Linked DNA regions of Homo sapiens. The protein of the gene in region 1 purifies or fractionates together with the protein of each later gene. This does not show direct contact. Each region holds a gene or a part of one and is shown in the gene's direction. Other genes may lie near its edges.

Region 1 (3,965 bases):
GGTTGAAGCTAGAAAGAGTCGGGGCAGCAGCTCTGGTAGGGGAGGGAGCATCCAAAACCTCTGGCTTCTGAGCGCCTCTCCTGCCGCCCATCCACAAAGCCCCCCACAGCCTGGCGGCTGCCCTCGACCCCGCAAAACAAAGGACTTCAGAGGCTGGACCTACAGACCCAGATGAGAAGGCAAAAGCGTAGGGAGGAGCGGCAGGAGATGGGAAGGGCGGGCCCCGCTCGGAGCAGCTGCCGCTTCCTCCCAAAGTCCCACGAGGGGCCTGAGTCACGGGCCACCGCCCTGGGTCGGCGAGCTGGGGGAAGGGATCTGGACACCTGGCGTGTCCGGGCGGGAAGCTGGTGAGGGCCCCTGGGGACAGAGCGGAGGACCAGTGGTTGGGGCGAGAAGAGGGCAGTCCCGCAGCGAGTCCCACGCGGGGTGGGAGGGATCTAGGCCCCGCCCTCTCCTCGGCTCCGCCCTGCGCCCCCTTCCCTCTCCTCATTGTCCTTAGACAAAGCGGTCGCCGCCCCCGCCCGGCCCCCTGGTCTCTGTCTCCGTCCCTCCTCCTTTGCTGCCTCTTTCCCTCCTCCTCTCCCTCCCTCCTCCCCTCCCTCCAGTCTCCGGATCTCCCTCGGTCCCTCTCTCCTCCTCTTCCTCTCTCTGGACGCCCGGCTCCTCCGCACCCCCTCCCCCGGGGGTCCCGCGGCCTGTGAGTTGACTGAGGGGCTCAGACTTGGGGAGTGGGTGTCTCCTCGCCCCTGTCCTTGCTCCCGTCCCTGGCCCGGACCTTGGCTGTCTCCTCTTTGTGCCGAGATTGTCAGTCTGTGCGGCTACAGCGGGGTGGAGACGGCCGGCTCTGTCACGGCTTCATGAGAGCGGGGACGGGGCGCAGGACTTGCAGGCGCCGGGGAGAAGAGACATGGAGCCGGCCCTTGGCACTCTGGGGTCGCGTGGGGCAGTCGGTGGGGGAGGCAGGCGGTGGTGACAGGACAGGGTGGGGGTGGACGCCAGGGTTCTGGGAACGCGCTGGCAGCCCTGACGCCCGGGTTCCGAAAGTCTCGGGGGTGGCTATTTCCCCCGACCCGCCTCGGGGGCGGAGTGCGGGGCAGAGGGGTGGGGGCTGGGGAGAGGCGTGGCCCGAGCGGTGCTGGAAGCGGAGCCGGGACCTTTGGGGCCCGCGCTGAGACGCGCCCGGCTGCTGCCGCCGCCCTCCTTTCCCCTCTTCCCTGGTTTCCCTTCTCCTCTAGACCTGTTCGCTCTCCGCCCCTCCTTGCCTCCCCAACACCCCCTCAGGTCCCGTTGCCTCCTGGTCCTTTCAGGGATTCCTGGTCCTTCCTTCCCACACTAGCCTCCCTGGGGTATCGCTGAGGCAGCCTGGCCTGCACCCAGGTTCCCCTCACCCCTGCCACATTTCTCTCTTCTCCCTCACGCCAACTTTCCTTTTCGCCCTTCTCTCTCTTTCTCACATCCTAGAGACGGTCTTTAATACGCATTAACCCTGTGCTGCCACATCTGGCTCCTGCCCTCATTGCCTCCAATCCGGACTCTTCCTCTCACATCACCCCCACCACCCCCAACTTGGGCTCACAACTTCTCTTCACTTTTTCCATTTCCCCAGTTCTCTGCCTTCCGTCTTTCCCTCTGTCCTCATCCTTAGCCCCTCTGCCCTGCTTTGTGTCCCACCTCTCCCCCTCCACTTCCTCTCCTCCCACCCTCAGTCTCACCCCCGGGCTGTCTCACTCTCTGGAGCCTCTCCTTCCTGTTCTCTGTCCCCAGTGCTCCCTACCCTCACCTCAAGACGACCATGGCCACCATCCCAGACTGGAAGCTACAGCTGCTAGCCCGGCGCCGGCAGGAGGAGGCGTCCGTTCGAGGCCGAGAGAAAGCAGAACGGGAGCGCCTGTCCCAGATGCCAGCCTGGAAACGAGGGCTCCTGGAGCGCCGCCGGGCCAAGCTTGGGCTGTCCCCTGGGGAGCCTAGCCCTGTGCTAGGGACTGTAGAGGCTGGACCTCCAGACCCGGATGAGTCTGCGGTCCTTCTGGAGGCCATCGGGCCAGTGCACCAGAACCGATTCATCCGGCAGGAGCGGCAGCAGCAGCAGCAGCAACAACAACGGAGTGAAGAGCTGCTAGCAGAGAGAAAGCCTGGGCCTCTGGAGGCCCGGGAGCGGAGACCCAGCCCTGGGGAGATGCGGGATCAGAGCCCCAAGGGAAGAGAGTCAAGAGAAGAGAGACTAAGTCCGAGGGAGACCAGAGAGAGGAGGCTGGGGATAGGGGGAGCCCAAGAGTTGAGCCTGAGGCCTCTGGAGGCTCGGGACTGGAGGCAAAGCCCAGGAGAGGTGGGAGACAGGAGCTCCCGACTGTCAGAGGCATGGAAATGGAGGCTGAGTCCTGGAGAAACTCCAGAGCGGAGTCTGAGACTAGCAGAGTCTCGAGAGCAAAGCCCCAGGAGAAAAGAGGTGGAAAGTAGACTGAGCCCAGGGGAATCTGCCTACCAGAAGTTGGGCCTGACAGAGGCCCATAAATGGAGACCTGACTCCAGAGAGTCTCAGGAACAGAGTTTGGTACAACTGGAGGCAACAGAGTGGAGGCTGAGGTCAGGAGAAGAAAGACAAGACTACTCGGAAGAATGTGGGAGAAAAGAAGAGTGGCCAGTTCCAGGGGTAGCTCCAAAAGAGACTGCAGAGCTGTCCGAGACCCTGACAAGGGAGGCCCAAGGCAACAGTTCCGCAGGAGTGGAGGCAGCAGAGCAGAGGCCTGTGGAAGATGGCGAGAGGGGCATGAAGCCAACAGAAGGGTGGAAATGGACCCTGAACTCCGGGAAGGCTCGAGAATGGACACCCAGGGACATAGAGGCTCAAACTCAGAAACCAGAACCTCCAGAGTCAGCAGAGAAGCTTCTGGAATCTCCCGGTGTGGAGGCTGGAGAAGGGGAGGCTGAGAAGGAGGAGGCGGGGGCTCAGGGCAGGCCTCTGAGAGCCCTGCAGAACTGCTGCTCTGTGCCCTCCCCCCTCCCACCAGAGGACGCTGGGACTGGAGGCCTGAGACAGCAGGAAGAGGAAGCAGTGGAGCTCCAGCCCCCACCACCAGCCCCTCTGTCTCCCCCACCCCCAGCCCCAACTGCCCCCCAACCTCCTGGGGATCCCCTCATGAGCCGCCTGTTCTATGGGGTGAAGGCAGGGCCAGGGGTGGGGGCCCCCCGCCGCAGTGGACACACCTTCACCGTCAACCCCCGGCGGTCTGTGCCCCCTGCGACCCCAGCCACCCCAACCTCTCCAGCCACAGTTGATGCTGCAGTCCCGGGGGCTGGGAAGAAGCGGTACCCAACTGCCGAGGAGATCTTGGTTCTGGGGGGCTACCTCCGTCTCAGCCGCAGCTGCCTTGCCAAGGGGTCCCCCGAAAGACACCACAAACAGGTAGGGAAGCAGCCAAGCCAGACTTCTTAGAAGTCCACTTGTCAATTTTCTCTGGACTCTGGTCTCTTTCTTTTTTATACCCCTGTTTTCTTGTCTTCCTCTATTCTTTCTTGTTAATTCCTGCCACCACCCTTCCTCGCTCTGCACATACACCCTTCCTTCTCAGAGCCCTCCTTTTCCATTTTGAGCCCAAAAGATCCTGCCCCAGCAAAGGCTGTCTCTGGGTGTGTCTCTTTCAGGGTGTGCCAGGCTGCTCATTCTCCCTTCCCTTGGGCTCTGAGTTTCCAACCCCCTTTTCTTTCCTTCCTTTCCTGAGTGTGACCTGCCCCAGCCCATCCAGTGGGAGAGCCTAAAGTGACGAGCTTGAATCAGTGAGGGCAGGGTCACCAGGGTGAGAGCACTTGCAGTTTTTCTGGGGAGAAGGGATAGGGAGCCTGGGGTGGTGGAGGGGGTGGGGTGGGTTTGTGTTCTAGGGAGAAACTGCAGGGAGAAGTGAATGGAGAAAGGTCCAACTGCCCCGTGGGAAGGAGGGCAGAGCTGAATAGGGACATCCTAGGATGGA
Region 2 (3,500 bases), on another chromosome or scaffold:
ATCAGGCCTGCTGGGACTAAGATGGGCGGAGCCGCTGAGGGGCCGGCCTTGGATAAGACGGCCTTAGGCTGGGTTGGCTGCCAAGTGGGATCACATGGGAAAGGAAGGGGCTGAAGGAAGATATCACTGTAGAGGCGAAGGAAGGCCTGGAACAGAAGGTAGAGTCAATGGTCAAACAGCTGGTGGTGGACCGCGCCTGGCAGGGGTGGGGCCTGGCGCATTGAAAGCACGGGTCTGCTCAGGGAGCCTTCTAAACGCTTTTCTGTATCTGAGCTTCCTTTTGGGAGATAGAATGTTGTAGCAATTCAACTGATGGGCTTTGAACTGGGGTTTGAATTCCAACCCATTCTGTGCCAGTTAATCTCAGTAAAATCCTAGGTGAGGATTCAATGGGATAATATATTCAATGTATATAAAGGGCCTAGCACAGGGCTTGGCACAGAGTAGGTGCTTAATAAAGAATGACGATTATAAGCATTGTCTCCGCCACCCCCTCGACAAAGTATCCATTGAGCACCTGGTGTAGGCCACACATTTTCCTTTTTGTTTTTTTGTTGTTGTTGTCGTTGTTGTTCGAGATGGAGTCTTGCTCTGTTGCCCAGGCTGGAGTGCAGTGGCACGATCATGGCTCACTGCGACCTCCACCTCCCGGTTCAAGCAATTCTCCTGCCTCAGCCTCCCGAATAGCTGGGATTACAGGTGCCCACTACCACGCCTGGCTGATTTTTTGTATTTTGAGTAGAGATGGGGGTTTCGCCATGTTGGTCAGGCTGGTCTCGAATTCCTGACCTCAAGTGATCCACCCACCTCAGCCTCCCAAAGTACTGGGATTACAGGCGTGAGCCACCGCGCCCAGCCTGGCCACACAGTTTTCGGGGCACTGGGGAATACAGTGGGGACGTTGACAGATGAGGTTTCCACCCTCCCATATCTCACAAGCCTAGTGGGAAACACATCAGTCCATTCATTCAGCTCATTTCCCCTTGGTGCCTACTGTGTGCCAGGGTTCCAGCTGGGTCCAGAAAAAGCTCAGAGTACCCAGTGGTGCAGTCACCTGCTTCAACTTGGACTGTCAGGGAAGGGTGTTTAGGAAGAGGTGGTTTCAATCTCCTGGAGGGCAGGGTCTTCTCTGTTATCCAGTGACTTGAACAGTTCTAAGCATGTAGTAGGTAGTCAATAAATACTTGTTTTGTTTTGTTTTGTTTTTTGAGACGGAGTCTTGCTCTGTCGCCCAGGCTAGAGTGCAGTGGCACGATCTCGGCTCACTGCAAGCTCCGCCTCCCGGGTTCACGCCATTCTCCTGCCTCAGCCTCCCGAGTAGCTGGGACTACAGGCACCTGCCACATTTTTTGTATTTTTAGTAGAGACGGGGTTTCACCGTGTTAGCCAAGATGGTCTCGATCTCCTGACCTTGTGATCCGCCCGCCTCAGCCTCCCAAAGTGCTGGGATTACACGCGTGAGCCACCGCACCCGGCCTAAATACTTGTTAAAAGAACAAATGGGCTGGGCGCTGTGGCTCATGCCTGTAATCCCAGCACTTTGGGAGGCTGAGACGGGAGGATCACAAGGTCAGGAGTTCGAGACCGACCAGTCCGAGACCAGCCTGGCCAACATGGTGAAAACCCATCTATACTAAAAATACAAAAATTAACCGGGCGTTGTGGTGCGCGCCTGTAATCCCAGCTACTTGGGAGGCTGAGGCAGGAGAATTGCTTGAACCTGGGAGGCAGAGGTTGCAGTGAGCCGAGATCGTGCCACTGCACTCCAGCCTGGGCGACAGAGCGAGACTACGTATTGAAATAAAAAAAAAAAAAAAGAAGAACAAATGATTCAATGGAAAAGAATGAATGAAATTCCTGAGCTGAAAACTGCAAGATGGGTATTAATCAGGACAGAAAGGTGTTCCACGCACAGGGAACAGAATATGCAAAAGCCTAAATCCTAAATGTGGGAAGCAGCCTCACCTCTCTGCAACCAGTTCTTTGTCTCATAATCTGCAGCTCTGTGTCTATCCCTGTCTTTCCAGGCTCAGCCTCACTGTTCTCCATCTCTCCGCAGGCACCGGCGCCCCTTCGTGGCGGCCACAGAAGAACCGCTCCCGGGCGGCGTCGGGTGGGGCAGCGCTGGCCAGTCCTGGCCCGGGGACCGGATCAGGGGCCCCAGCTGGGTCTGGAGGCAAGGAGCGCTCAGAAAACTTGTCTTTGCGGCGCAGCGTGTCGGAGCTTAGCCTTCAGGGGCGGCGGCGGCGGCAGCAGGAGCGGAGACAGCAGGCACTTAGCATGGCCCCAGGGGCAGCCGACGCCCAAATCGGAACTGCAGACCCCGGGGACTTCGATCAGTTGACTCAGTGCCTCATCCAGGCCCCCAGCAACCGCCCCTACTTCCTGCTGCTCCAGGGCTACCAGGACGCCCAGGTAACCGCCGCCCCAGCCCCGCACGCCCAGAGCCCTATACCCCATCTGTTGGTGGGTGAGCAACAAAACTACAACTCCCAGAAGGCCCGGGGCGCGCTAGCCTCAAGTACTCTAGTGGGGCGTGGTCCCTCAAGGTTCCAGAGTAGAGATTCACAGGAGAGGGAGAGTAGATGGCTGAGAAAGAGTCCAATGGAGGAGGAAATAGGGAATAGTTCACTTTATTCAAAGTTGGAGGAAAGCACTGTCTTCATTAAGGAGATTCCATTGTAGAAAGAAGATCCCCGCCAGGCGTGCGGCTGACTCTCATAATCCCAGCACTTTGGGAGGTCAAGGTGGAAGAATTGCTTGAGGCCAAAAGTTCGAGACCAGCCTGGACAACATAGTGAGATCCTGTCTCTACCAAAAATTAGGCCTGGCGCAGTGGCTCACGCCTGTTATCCCAGCACTTTGGGAGGCCTTGGTGGGTGGATCACCTGAGGTTGGGAGTTCAAGACCAACCTGACCAACATGGAGAAACCCTGTATGTACTAAAAATACAAAATTAGCCGGGTGTGGTGGCGCACGCCTGTAATCCCAGCTACTCAGGAGGCTGAGGCAGGGGAATCGTTTGAACCCGGAAGGCAGAGGTTGCGGTGAGCCAAGATCGTTCCATTGCACTCCAGCCAGGGAGACAGAGCAAGACTCTGTCTCAAAAAAAAAAAAAAAGAAAGAAAAAAAAGCCGGGCGTGGTGGTGTGCACCTGTGGTCCCAGCTACTCGGGAGACTGAGGCAGGAGGATCTCTTGAGCTCAGGAGGTCGAGGCTTCCGTGAGCTATGATGGCACCACTGTACCATCACCAGCCTGGGTGACACACAAAGGCCCTGTCTCCAAAATAAATTTTTTTAATAAACTTTTTTTTTTTTGTCGGAGTCTCTCTCTGTCGCCCAGGCTGGACTCCAGTGGCGCGATCTCGGCTCACTGCAAGCTCTGTCTCCTGGGTTCACGCCATTCTCCTGCCTCAGCCTCCCGAGTAGCTGGGACTACAGGCGCCCGCCACCATGCCCAGCTAATTTTTTTGTATTTTTAGTAGAGATGAGGTTTCACC
Region 3 (3,500 bases), on another chromosome or scaffold:
CCCCATCTCTACAAAATAAAGTAAAATAAATTAACTGGGTGTGGTGGCATGTGCCTGTAATCCCAGCTACTTGGGAGGCTGAGGTGGGAAGAGCACTTGAGCCTAGGAGTTGCAGGCTGCAGTGAACATGATCATGCGTACCACTGTACTCCAGCCTGGTCAACAGAGTGAGACCTTGTCTCAAAAAAAAAAAAAAAATACATGAGAATTGACTCCCAAATACCTCCCTCTTATATCAATTTAATACTTTGAGTTGCCATAATGCTCAATTTCTAAATCTGATTTTCCCTCCCTTCATCAATCCAGTCTAAGGGAAGCCTGGAGATAACAGAGAGCCAGTCTGCAGATGCTGAACCTCCACCTCCTCCTAAGCCAGACCTGAGCCGTTACACAGGGTTGCGAACACACCTCGGCTTGGCTACTAATGAGGGTAAGGGCTGCCTTGATTTGCAAGATACTAGAACTAGGGGCAGGATTGAGAAGGTTGCTTATGAGCTGTGGAAGACAGGCAAGGGCTGGGAGATATTACTCGTGTTGTGACTTTAAACACCCAACAGTTGGTACTTGTGCTACTTTGCAACTGAAAGAGAAGAGAGGCCATTTAGCTATTGGCAGTGAATGGGACTTTTGCCGGGAAAATGGTCAGCCTCTAGGCAGACCAGAGAACATCACAGAACCTTTTTGGTGCATTTACCCACCCTGAATTCTGGGCTGGTGTGAGTCTTTAAAAGTCTTGATTTCAGCGAAGGGTATATCTATTCCTACCTTGTCCTCTCCCTGTACTTAAGGAACCCTAGGCAGATAAAGTGAACAACTCATAGACTAGACGCAGTGGCTCACACCTGTGATCCCAGCACTTTGGGAGGCCAACGCAGGAGGATTGCTTGAGCCCAGGAGTTCAAGACCACCCTGGGCAACATAGCAAGACTCTGTCTCTACAAAAAATTTAAAAAAGTTAGCTGGGCATGGTGGCATATGCCTGCAGTCCCAGCTACTCAGGAGGCTGAGGTGGGAGCCCAGGAGTTCAAGGCTCCAGTGAGCTATAATCGTGCCACTGCACTCTAGCTTGGACAGTAGAGTGAGACCCTGTCTCTTAAACCAAAAAACCGCTTGTAAAATAGTGCCCCCTTGGCCTTTTTTCTTGCAGATAGTAGCTTATTGGCCAAGGACAGCCCCCCGACACCTACCATGTACAAGTATCGGCCGGGTTACAGTAGCAGCAGTACGTCAGCTGCCATGCCGCATTCCTCCAGCGCCAAGGTACTGAGTACTCTAAGAGGTGGGGTAATAACATGCCAACTGGCCAGGCACAGTGGCTCATTCCTGTAATCCCAGCACTTTGGGAGCCCAAGGTGGGTGGATCACAAGGTCAAGAGATTGAGACCGTCCTGGCCAACATGGTGAAACCCCGTCTCTACTAAAAATACAAAAATTAGGCCAGGCGTGGTGGCTCACGCCTGTAATCCCAGCACTTTGGGAGGCCGAGACTGGTGGATCACAAGGTCAGGAGTTCGAGACCAGCCTGGCTAATGTGGTGAAACCCCATCTCTACTAAAAATACAAAAATTGCCGGGCACAGTGGCTCACGCCTGTAATCCCAGCACTTTGGGAGGCTGAGGCAGGTGAATCACGAGGTCAGGAGATTGAGACCATCCTGGCTAACATGGTGAAACCCCGTCTCTACTAAAAATACAAAAAAATTAGCCAGGCATGGTGGCAGGTGCCTGTAGTCCCAGCTACTCGGGAGGCTGAGCCAGGAGAATGGCGTGAACCCAGGAAGCGGAGCTTGCAGTTAGCCGAGATCATGCCACTGCACTCCAGCCTGGGCAGCAGAGCGAGACCGCATCTCAAAAAAAAAATAAATAAATAAATACAAAAATTATCTGGGCGTGGTGGGGGGGCACCTGTAATCCCAGCTATTCGGGAGGCTGAGGCAGGAGAATCACTTGAATCTGGGAGGTGGAGGTGGCAGTGAGTCGAGATTGCGCCACTGCACTCCAGTCTGGGTGACAGAGTGAGAGTCCATCTCAAAAAAAAAAAAAAAAAATTAGCTGGTAGTGGTATGCATCTGTAGTCCCAGCTACTTGGCAGGCTGAGGCAAGGAGAATCGCTTGAACCTGGGAGGAGAATTGCTTGAACCTGGGAGGTGGAGGCTGCAGTGAGCTGAGCTCCCACTGCTGTATTCCAGTCTGGTGACAGAGTGAGACTACACCTCAAAAAAAAAAAAAAAAAAAAAAAGGCCAAGCACAGTGGCTCAAGCCTGTAATCCCAGCACTTGGGGAGGCTGAGGCAGACGGACCACCCGAGGTCAGGAGTTTGAGACCAGCCTGGCCAACTTGGTGAAACCCTGTCTCTACTAAAAATACAAAAATTAGCTGGGCGTGGTGGCGGGGCGCCTGTAATCCCAGCTACTCGGGAAGCTGAGGCAGGAGAATCGTTTGAACCTGGGAGGCTGAGGTTGCAGTGAGCCAAGATTGCACCATCACGCTCCAGCCTGGGCTTAAAACACACACACACACACACACACACACACACAAACAAATGCCAACTGTTACGGGAAAAAAAGAAGATTAGGGGAAGGAAAAGGCAGAAGAAAGGACATTTCACTAATTGTTGGCATTCGTGGAACTCAATCTCCTTGATACTGTGTCCTTCATCAGACTGGGCAATATAGCATAATAGATTAGTGCTTGATCCGAGTTTATAACCCAGTTCTGCCCACGGGCGAGATACTCAGCCTTTCTACGTCTTGCTTTCTGTATCTGAAAAGGAGATGATATTTGCCTGAATTCAGTTTTTCTTGAGGGATTAACCCAGATAATGCATGTAAGAGTTCTAAGCTTATTATTGGCACATAATTCTCTTTTTGACCAACTCCTTGAGCTCTGGGGTCTAGCTTCTGTCACAAAAGGAGCACTAAGAGCCTGCTTTACTTTCTTCCTCAGTTGAGTCGTGGGGACAGCTTGAAGGAGCCAACCTCAATTGCAGAGAGCAGCCGTCACCCCAGCTACCGCTCAGAGCCCAGCTTGGAACCAGAGAGCTTCCGTTCTCCTACCTTTGGCAAAAGTTTTCACTTCGATCCACTATCCAGTGGCTCACGCTCCTCCAGCCTCAAGTCAGCCCAGGGCACAGGCTTTGAGCTGGGCCAGTTGCAATCCATTCGTTCAGAGGGCACCACCTCCACCTCCTATAAGAGCCTGGCCAACCAGACACGCAATGGAAGCCTATCTTATGACAGCTTGCTCACACCTTCAGACAGCCCTGATTTTGAGTCAGTGCAGGCAGGGCCTGAGCCAGACCCACCTTTAGGCTATACCTCTCCCTTCCTGTCAGCCAGGCTGGCCCAGCAACGGGAAGCTGAGAGGCACCCACGTTTGGTGCCAACTGGCCCAACACACCGAGAGCCCTCACCAGTCCGTTACGACAATCTGTCGCGCCACATTGTGGCCTCTCTCCAGGAACGAGAGAAGTTGCTGCGCCAGTCACCCCCACTCCCGGGC
Region 4 (3,500 bases), on another chromosome or scaffold:
CTGGTAATGAAACTTAATGTGATCAATAATCAAAATAGAGTAAAAATGACTATCTTGAGATACTACTGAAAATTATTCAAAAATATGTCTTATAGTATATACTAGTAGTAGTTAAGTTGATTTAGGAAAATTGTCAATTGATAATTTTAAAAGGTTAAAATCTATAATTAATGTTTTTCCCATAGATAGAAACAGGTCAAGATTGTTAAGGCCATGACTTAACTCTGGTTCTTTTTCTTTTTCTTTTTTTGGAGACAGCGTTTGTCACTTTGTTACCCAGGCTGGAGTGCAGTGACTCACTGCAATTTTGATCTCCCCGGCTCAAGCAATCCTCCCGCCTCAGTCCCCCAAGTAGCTGGGACTACAAGCGCGGGTCACCACACCCAGCTAATTTTTGTATATTTTGTAGAGAGAGGGGTTTGCCATGTTGCCTGTGCTGGTCTCAAACTCCTGAACTCAAGCAGTCAACTTGCCGTGGCCTCTCAAAGTGCTGGGATTACAGGTGTGATTCATTTTTTTTTTTTTTTTTTTTTTTTTTCATTTTTTTTCATTTTTTGAGATGGAGTCTTGCTGTGTCGTCCAGACTGGGGTGCAGTGGTGCGATCTTGGCTCACTGCAACCTCTGCCTCCAGGGTTCAAGCAATTCTCCTGCCTCAGCCTCCCTAGTAGTTGGGATTACAAGTATGCGCCACCACGCCTGGCTAATTTTTGTATTTTTAGTAGAGATGGGGTTTCACAATGTTGACCAGGCTGGTCTCAAACTCCTGACCTCAGGCAGTCCTCCTGCCTGGCCTCCCAAAGTCCTGGGGTTACAGGCATGAGCCATTGGGCCTGGCCTACCCTGATTCTTAAGAAAGCATTTTCTTTCTTTCATATTATAAAGTAGTTATGTGTAGGTTTATTTAGTTAGGAATTCCAGCTGTTCAGAGATGGCAAAACAAAAAAAAAAAGCAAGATCCAGTACCATGGCTCATGCCTGCAATCCCAACACTGTAAGAGGCTAAGGCAGGCGGATCACTTGAGGCCAGGAGTTCGAGACCAGCCTGGGCAATATGGCAAAACCCTCATCTCTACTAAACAAAAATTAGCCGGGTATGCCTGTAATCCCACCTACTCAGGAGGTGGAGGTTGCAGTGAGTCAGGATCGTGCCACTGCACTCCAGCCTTGGGCAACAGAGCAAGGCTCTCAAAATAAAAAAGCAGCGGCTGCATTTTATGCCTTTCAAATGCTGCAGGAAATAGAAATGGCTTAAGTTCAGTAAGAGAATTGACAATTCAGTGTTTTTGAGAAGTGGCAATGAAAGGGAGGAAAATGTTTATTGATTTTAGCCTGTTTCCCCAAAAGGATAAGAAACTATTTGGAAGTGAAAAAGAAGGGCCTCTTATTTTCTGTTGGTTCAGATTTCAAAGGTGTGAAAACTATTCTTTTTCCCTTACTGTGACATTAAATCACTTCAGGCTTGTACCATTTTGTATGGCCTGTTGTTAAGTTGGACATGACAATTTGTAAAATGTGAGGATCTTTTCCTTTCTTGTAAGTTAGAAGAAATAACCTCTTCAGTTAAACCTTCAGTGAAGGTTCTTTTAGTTTTCTGTTCTGCTTTCTAAAAACATAGACTCTGTTCTTTAGAGCAACTTATGACTCTCATCTCTGCTGCACGAGAATATGAGATAGAGTTCATCTATGCGATCTCACCTGGATTGGATATCACTTTTTCTAACCCCAAGGAAGTATCCACATTGAAACGTAAATTGGACCAGGTAACTCCTTACTTTTTATTCATTTTTCCTGACTATGTACTTGAAACTAGAAGTTTACTCAGTTGCTTTTACGATGTTAAAAGGAAATCAAATTCCTATTTCTTTGTTTTCTTTTTTTGTTTGTTTGTTTTGTTTTTTGAGACAGAGTCTTGCTCTGTCGCCCAGACTGGAGTGCAGTGGCACAATCTCGGCTCACTGCAACCTCCTCCGCCTCCCGGGTTCAAGTGATTCTCCTGCCTCAGCTTCCCGAGTAGCTGGGACTATAGGTGCGTGCCATCATGCCTGGCTAATTTTTGTATTTTTAGTAGAGACAGGGCCTTCACCATGCCAGCCAGGCTGGTCTCGAACTGCTCACCTCATGATCTTCCCAAAGTGCTGGGATTACAGGTGTGAGTCACCATGCCTGGTTTTTTATTTCTTTGTTTCTATAAGAATTTTTTTTACTTTGAATGCTTTTTTTTTCTTTTTTTTTTTTTTTGAGACAGAGTCTTGCCCTGTTGCCTGGAGTGCAGTGGCCCAATCTCGGCTCACTGCAACCTCCACCTCCCAAGTTCAAGCGATTCTCATGCCTCAGCCTCCTGAGTAGCTGTTACAGGCACACCACCATGCCTGGCTAATTTTTATATTTTTAGTAGAGACAGGGTTTTGCCACGTTGGCCAGGCTGGTCTCGAACTCCTGACTTTAGGTGATTCACCCACTTCAGCCTCCCAGAGTGCCGGGATTACAGTCGTGCGCCAGTGCACCCAGCCTTGAATCCTTCTGATAGAGGAATATTTTCCAAATTAAGTAAAAAGAGCTTTACTGGAGGTACTAGTTCTTCTCAAATTTCAGTTTGCATAAGAACTGCCTTAAAAGAATGATTAGAAGTGAAGCTTGGAAGAATGCTGACTGCTGGACTTTATTTCCCAAATGGATAAGGTGGGGACCGGGAATCTAGGTGATTGGTGGTCAAGAACCACATTTTGAGAAATTATATATACCCTAGGCTGCTTGGCTTGAATTTACACCTGAGATTACAGAAACAGGGTTTTACCTATTAGACATTAGTTTCTTCAATTATATGGACGAAGAGATGTCTGGAAATGGCTAGTTTCCCAAGATGAGAAGAAAAACAGACTAGGTGAACCTAATTGAGTGTAAAGTCTGCTTAATGTAAAAGCTGCAGACTTCCTTTGGTCCAATGTAGGGGGCTTCCATTTTCCTTTTTTTTTTTGAAACTGAGTCTTGCTCTGTCGCCCAGGCTGGAGTGCAGTGGCGCGATCTCAGCTCATTGCAACCTCTACCTCCTGGGTTCAAGCAATTCTCTGGCCTCAGCCTCCTGAGTAACGGGGATTACAGGCATGTGCTACCACACCTGGCTAATTTTTTTGTATTTTTAGTAGAGATGGGGTTTCACCATGTTTGCCAGGCTGGTCTCGAACTCCTAACCTCATGGTTTGCCCGCCTCGGCCTCCCAAAGTGCTGGGATTACAAGTGTGAGCCACTGCGCCCGGCCCCATTTTTCTGTTATTTTAGTTTGCTGGTTTTTCTATATACATGTCTTATTTCTTTAGGCAAAGATTTATATGGGTGGCATTAAAATGTCTGGTAAAAAATTTAAGGCAGTTGAAATTTTCATGAATGAAGTTATTTTACTATTTGATAAAATTCTATTCTTTCTGATTCATACCTGGTTAGGTTTATCTGCAAAGGGATCAGTGTGCCTTTTGGGACTAGGACACAGCCTGGCTTTTTCATG

The links. The genes of interacting proteins can lie anywhere in the genome.
Region 2: the proteins of PPP1R18 (region 1) and RASIP1 purify together in Homo sapiens (affinity purification with mass spectrometry; 3 studies listed by BioGRID and IntAct, with this or other methods). This does not show direct contact.
Region 3: the proteins of PPP1R18 (region 1) and ZDHHC5 purify together in Homo sapiens (co-immunoprecipitation; one large-scale study listed by IntAct). This does not show direct contact.
Region 4: the proteins of PPP1R18 (region 1) and OGA purify together in Homo sapiens (affinity purification with mass spectrometry; 3 studies listed by BioGRID and IntAct, with this or other methods). This does not show direct contact.

Annotation. Positions count from the first base shown.
Region 1 is NC_000006.12:30,683,846-30,687,810, reverse strand, and holds the start of PPP1R18 (phostensin), read left to right. Parts: upstream 1-1,165; 5' UTR 1,166-1,764; coding exon of another isoform or gene 1,765-1,792; coding exon 1,793-3,403; intron 3,404-3,965.
Region 2 is NC_000019.10:48,734,111-48,737,610, reverse strand, and holds part of RASIP1 (ras-interacting protein 1), read left to right. Parts: intron 1-2,059; coding exon 2,060-2,415; intron 2,416-3,500. UniProt on the Homo sapiens protein: Required for the proper formation of vascular structures that develop via both vasculogenesis and angiogenesis.
Region 3 is NC_000011.10:57,695,614-57,699,113, forward strand, and holds part of ZDHHC5 (palmitoyltransferase ZDHHC5), read left to right. Parts: intron 1-306; coding exon 307-430; intron 431-1,147; coding exon 1,148-1,260; intron 1,261-2,945; coding exon 2,946-3,500. UniProt on the Homo sapiens protein: Palmitoyltransferase that catalyzes the addition of palmitate onto various protein substrates such as CTNND2, CD36, GSDMD, NLRP3, NOD1, NOD2, STAT3 and S1PR1 thus plays a role in various biological processes including cell adhesion, inflammation, fatty acid uptake, bacterial sensing or cardiac functions.
Region 4 is NC_000010.11:101,808,445-101,811,944, reverse strand, and holds part of OGA (protein O-GlcNAcase), read left to right. Parts: intron 1-1,630; coding exon 1,631-1,761; intron 1,762-3,500.